Linked DNA regions of Homo sapiens: region 1 is linked to region 2. The links come from fine-mapping of genetic effects on gene expression. A gene starts in region 2. The other region holds a variant in brackets. All regions are shown on one strand. Distances are between the middles of the regions.

Region 1 (2,915 bases), 810 kb before region 2:
TAACAACTCAAAGTGTTATAAAGGAATAGGTCGCCTAGTAGCATGGTCAGCGGTGTCTGTAAGACTTCTCGTCAGTCAGGCTGCGGTATGGGATTGAAGTGGAAGATCACTAAGAAATGGAGGGAATGAATTTCAGAATGGGTGGGGGGTTTCAGGGTGTTGGGTCAATAGCTGTCTTATCAATGGAGCTGAGAATGAAAACCTAGGAAAAGTGACACTGGCTCTAGAAGGGAACTGGGCCATCTGCCTTATAGACCATCTGCTAATTTGTTGCTCATTTATTGGTGAAACTTGGGAAGGTAATGGATATGTATGAGCTCTCTCAGAACTTGCCTTGTTGCCTAATGGATATCTTTGACTTTTCCAACTCCAAGTATCTGTAAAAGTTCCTAATTTCCTCATAGACTTGTAAAACCACTCAAACCCACCAGGCCCTTATTCTGTTTCCAAGATCACCTTTCAGGTGTCACCGTGTTGACAAGTTATTTGGAGCTCTATTGACCTTGTCTCATTATTGGAACTTTTCTAATATCTTGAATGCAGATGGAAGGAAAGGAGACAATAACAACAAAAAATAAAACTGCAACAGCATGATTTATTATAGTATATATTTCTCAGAAGAGACAAAAACAGCATCAATGAAGAGCAATCATAGAAGGTTCACAGTTGCCTCAGAACCAATTCAACAATTCATAGGGGGTTGGCATCACATAAACAGCTGGGAAAAAGCAGTTAAATGATTTTCTACATGCTCTTAGGGAGAGACTGTGTCTAATCTGATGCAGTTGCTCCAAAGGAGCGCAGCTAATGACATCTACACCAAATATCAGTTCAATAAATTGCTTCCTTTCATTAATCTGAGTGTCGGTGTCTGCATTAACGGTGTTAACACAGCAGAAGGTCTAAAGGAGAGATAATAAGGACCTGTTTTTAGTGACATGTGGGGGCGGCCCTGTGAAAACAAGCAAATATATAACTGGTCCCTTGACTCTGGTGAATCAAAACCATTTCATTTATTCATTCTGTCACTCCAAAATTATTCTTTGAGTGACTACTATGTGCCTGGTCCTGGGCTATGTCCTCATGTACCAATGGACAAAGGGCCTTCAGGGAGCTTATAGTAGGTGGGGAGGAGGCAGAAGTCATCACCTGCATACATAATTGACTGTGATGAGGGATAAGAAGGGAAAGTATGCATTACTTTGAAAAAATGCAACAGGGGAATACCTTTAGATGGAGACTGACCATCTTTCTAGAAAAATCAGGGCTTTAGGCTAGAAGAGCTTGTAGTGTATGGGCGATTATGACTCCTCTGGGAGTCTAGGCGTACATGAACAGTGTGCGTTTACTATCAAATCTGTATGTGACTATGTTTTGCAGTGGGCAGGCCTAAACAAACTTACCCCCCTCCCTCCCCAAGGCCAAGGAAGCTGAGAGGCCAAAGATAAAAGCTAACATATCCAGTCTCTTAGAAATAAGCATTCAATAGGGACTTGGCAAACAGAAGCCATGTCTCTATCTCAGGTGGCAGTGAGACAAGATGGTGGATCCCTACACCATTACCCCTCAGACGCAGGGCTTATATGGTATAGGGAAAGGGTGATTCAGAAA[G/A]GATGCATAGGACAATTGAAGTGCGATAACATCAAGACTGTTTGGCTTAAGGGCAGGATTTACAGTAAGTATCTGTTCTTACACAAGGAGCAATAGATAAACTGGAAATTGTAGAGGCCTTCCCAGAGCTGGATTTAATCAGAAGCCAACATGGAAGATGAGCATCCAAGATGGAGTTGCTTTGGTCTCCACAAACTGTATTGGGAAAATACAACTTTCCTTACCCTGATTATTATACATTATGGTTAGGTGCTTATAAATGAAGATAATGACCATTTCTGTAATCGGCAATGTACTGTAAATGAGATGGAAGCACAGTGTATCTCTGGGCAAGGTGTGTAATAGTAAGGCCTTCCCTTTCCTTCCACCCTCAAGGCTTGGGTGGATTAAGAATCTCTGGTCACTATGGCACCTTATGACCATTGATGAGCATCACTTCAAGAAAGAACTAGGACTGTCTCTGGACAGAGCATTTTTTCTTTGAACTCTGGTGTCTGTGAGCTGGCTCACCTGATTCGGGCGCTCTGTGGCTTCCAAGATTCATCTTGAGAATCACATCAAAAGTCCTGAAACTGACTGACCATCAGGGGATGCAGAAGAGAGAAGGGTGCCCTGGCTAAGCACTGGCTGCAATGCTGGTCCAAGGGGGAGAAACTACATGGCCAAGAAAATGCAGCTCACTCGTGGGAATGTCATAGCACCTGGAGGAACTCATAAAATAGCATAGGAATATGCCTATACCATTTCTGCTTCTATTTCATTGAGGGAGTGAATATGATAAGATGTCATCAGGTGACTGAATGTATCGTTAGCATTCTCCTCCTTATTGATTACATTTATTGAAATCTTGTATGTCAGGCACTGTTTTAAGCTCTGTCATCCATCTGTCTGTCTAAAACCTCATTAAATTGTCACAACTGATTGCCAAATGTAACTCTTCAAAACAGGAATATTCTAATTTATTTTTCTTATAACTGGGAAGATATTTTTAAGTTTCCAAAAAGAAAGAGTTAATGTTTTTAATAAAAGGTGTTCCCATTCCCTGCCTGCCCACTTGTCTCTTAGGTTGTTACTCAGAATTTGATGCCATGTTTGGTTTCAAGGACAGAAGGAGGCTAGCGTAGGGTGAGGAAATCTGTCAGGTTCTTTGAGTTCACAGGTGCTTGGCCACATAATATATGACTGTATATCCAGTATTGTTTCCCAACCATGTTCTGAGGTTGACAGTGTAAGGCTCATGAGGACAGGTATTTCATCCACTTTTTCAATGCTTTTTCTCTACTCACTAGAAAATATCTGGTACA
Region 2 (2,915 bases):
TCTATCTGAAGCAAGATGGTAGAACATTTTTCCAAAGCAAGTTAATTTTCCACCCAAGAGGATGAAGGGAGAGAAGGCTGAAGGAAGAGGGGGCAAAGCTGAGGCTTTCTTTCCTTCAGGGACTATTTTCTGTGGCCTGAGGCAACACATTTACTAACTTCAGAAACATCTCAGCTGAAGTCCCGCAGCAAAAAAGGGTAAAAGGGGAACTAGGCTGGAACCTTGTTAGGATTTACAAAGAGAACAGCATGACCACTCCAGAAGGGTTATAAAAATGCTTCACCACTAACTCCACCAAACCCTCCTGCTGTAAACAGCTCTAATGCTAGTGACTACCCTCAGACACTTACTGTCTATCCCTTTAGGGTGTTCTTAAAATACACCGGAAAGAACGGAGGTAAAAATACTGGAGTGTTTCCTCCACACTGGAAAGAGGTGAGTCATATCATTGTGATTGGTGTTTTAAGTATATTTTTATTGTTATTTTAAATGGCATTCAAGTTTAGCTTCAAGTTCAACAGCAGTCTTAGCCTACTTCCTCCCACACAAATACTCCTGCCAGTAAATAGGCACTCTTAAATAAAACAGTGCCTGCAAGAACCTTCTGACCCATTGAAATTAGTCTTGCCCTGTCTTCAGAGGTGTATTCGTCCCTCTCTGGGTGTAGAGCGGTATTTAAGGGTGACACTCGGGCACGCAGGAGGTGTGGCAGGGGGCGGGGAATGCAAGGTCACTGTGGCTCAGGGGCGGGTGTGGGTGCAGGCGCGTTGGGAGGACCCTGGGCGCCCTGGGAAGTCCGAGGGCAGGCGGCAGGGCTGGCGGGCAGCAGTGCTGGCTTCCGACGTGAGGTGGTGACGGCGGGCCCTGCGCCCAGGCCCTGTGCTGCCGACCGCTGTCCTGGCTGCGCAGCTCCCCAGCAGGCGCCGGGCTCAGGTCGCGCCTTCAGTTAGCGCTCAGCCTGCGCTACTGCGTCTCCTCCGCTTGCGATTTCTGGTCGGATCCCAGCTGGCCCAGACTTGCTCTGAAGTAGGAGGAACCGCTGTCGAGCGAAAAGTGCACACCGGGTGATTGATGAACTCTTAATAGAACTAACCTCTCCTGCCCCCAACCCTAGACACACACAGAGAAAACCTCCACCCCAGCCCCTTCTCCAGTCCTCCTCGCGGGCGAGAGGGGACGCGGCCGCCAGCCGGTAGGGTGATTAACTCACCGTCTGTCTTTGCAAAAGTGTTCCAGGTGGATCAGGAGCGCCAGCCCACCCCGCCCGCAGCCTGGCCGCTCGCTGAGGCGCGGAGAGCGCGGAACGAGCGCGCGCATCACGTGGCGGCGCGGACGTTTGTGCCGCGCGCCCGCCAGACCGCCCAGGAGGCGGCGGCTATTGTTCCCCGCAGGGGCCCGGGGCGCCCTGAAACGGGGTCCACGTCAGCCCGCTCCCGAGCGTGTCCTCAGGTCTAAGGACGGGTGGGGCTTCCTTTGTGTGTTCTCTGGAAGGGGCTGGGATGGCGTCGTTGCTGCCCCAAGGGGTAACCGAGGGGGATTGAGGGAAGATGGTACCAGCTCCCTAGAGCTCAGCTCACCAGACCTACTCTTCCGCTCGACCCTTGCAGAGGAGGTGGGGACGGATATGGTATTTGTAGGGCAGCGCTGTGAACAATGGAGCCATCAAAAAGGCCTTCTCCCAGCCTCCTCACCAACCACGGACATTCCTGGCCCAACAAGACCTCCTGGCCAGGTTTTGAGCCCTGCTTCCCAGGTAAAAACACTGCCTGTACCAGAGCTCTCCATGAATTTTGGTTTAAATTAGGATTTAAATTCTTCTGGCCCTTACTAATGTTAAAACCCAGCTTTTATGATTTCTCCAGGTAGTATTCTTTCCTTAAAATAATCCAGACTAGCTATAGGAACCAATCAGGACATTTTGCCCAAGATCTAGGACAGAAAGACTCATGCAGTAACTCCTGCCTTACAGATCTGGGGACCCTTCACCTGCCTCTACTACTGCAAATGATTGGATATTCGTCTGACTTGGCTCTTCCCTAATGTGTGGAACTAATTTTGTTCACTCTGTTTCATGCTGGACCTGGCCTGAAAATGGGCCCTTATATTGTCTTTGCACTTTCCAACTTGCCAAGGTAGGTGTGAAACCTGAGGGAAGTTTTTAGGAATAGGCTTTAGGCCAGGTACTTAAATCCATTTGTTCCCAACCTTGGACTCCAAAGATAAGGGCATTTGTAGCTGGAGTAGAAAAGAAGGGAACAATGAGAACTAAGATTTCATCCTCTGTGATGATTCTTATCATTCACCGTCCTTCCTCTCCAGCATCACCAGTGCAGAAAGTGCAGAGGACTTATGTACCCAATCTTTTTTTTTTTTTTTTTTTTTTTTTGAGATAGAGTTTCACTCTTGATGCCCAGGCTGGAGTGCAATGGTGTGATCTCAGCTCACTGCAACCTTGCCTCCCAGGTACAAACGATTCTCCTGTCTCAGCCTCCCAATATACCCAATCTTTCTCCTTTCTATCCAGGCCTTCTGCAAGAGAGATCTAAGAACCAGCCCTCAAAGATGGTAAGGGCTTGGCTAGTGACAGCCCAGTCTCAGCTCCCTGTGCCCAAAGTGTCGGAACAGGGCCACTCAACCCAAGCCCTACATATATACTCTGGGAAGTTGCAGTGCCTCGAAGTGATCAGGCCATAGTCCTGTGAAGACTGGGGTCATCCATGTCCCTTCCTGCCTACTCACAAACTTCTGTTCTTCCTATTCTTTTCTTTCAGTTTCTGAAAGAAGGACCAAAGTAATGCCAAGAACTCCCAGATGAAGAGGACCTTCCTTAGACCTATAACAGATTCACTACTTGACTTCAGAGGGAAGTTTCAGCTAATTCTCAGGAAAAGGTCAAAACAGGCCTGTGACTGTCC

Which allele goes with the higher level. Positions count from the first base shown, and alleles are read on the strand shown. Sizes are in standard deviations (SD) of each study's normalised expression.
As copies of G replace A in region 1, the expression in stomach of the gene that starts at base 1,298 in region 2 goes up (moderate effect, 0.55 SD a copy in GTEx).

Evidence for each region.
Region 1: its variant is fine-mapped to the expression of HAGLROS in stomach (GTEx, PIP above 0.99).

What each region holds. Positions count from the first base shown.
Region 1 is chr2:176,987,326-176,990,240 of GRCh38, reverse strand. It overlaps LOC107985965 (a long non-coding RNA gene), which reads left to right. Exons shown (of 2, transcript XR_001739799.1): 2 at 1-856. Among named protein-coding and RNA genes, the nearest start is that of MIR4444-1, 220 kb to the left of the region's middle. The variant G/A (reference allele first, on the strand shown) is at 1,612.
Region 2 is chr2:176,176,549-176,179,463 of GRCh38, reverse strand. HAGLROS (HAGLR opposite strand lncRNA) reads right to left here and starts at 1,298. Exons shown (of 2, transcript NR_110457.1): 1 at 1,211-1,298; 2 at 455-1,039. It overlaps HAGLR (HOXD antisense growth-associated long non-coding RNA), which reads left to right. Exons shown (of 3, transcript NR_033979.2): 2 at 1,970-2,132; 3 at 2,772-2,915. RefSeq lists an enhancer at 1,107-1,901.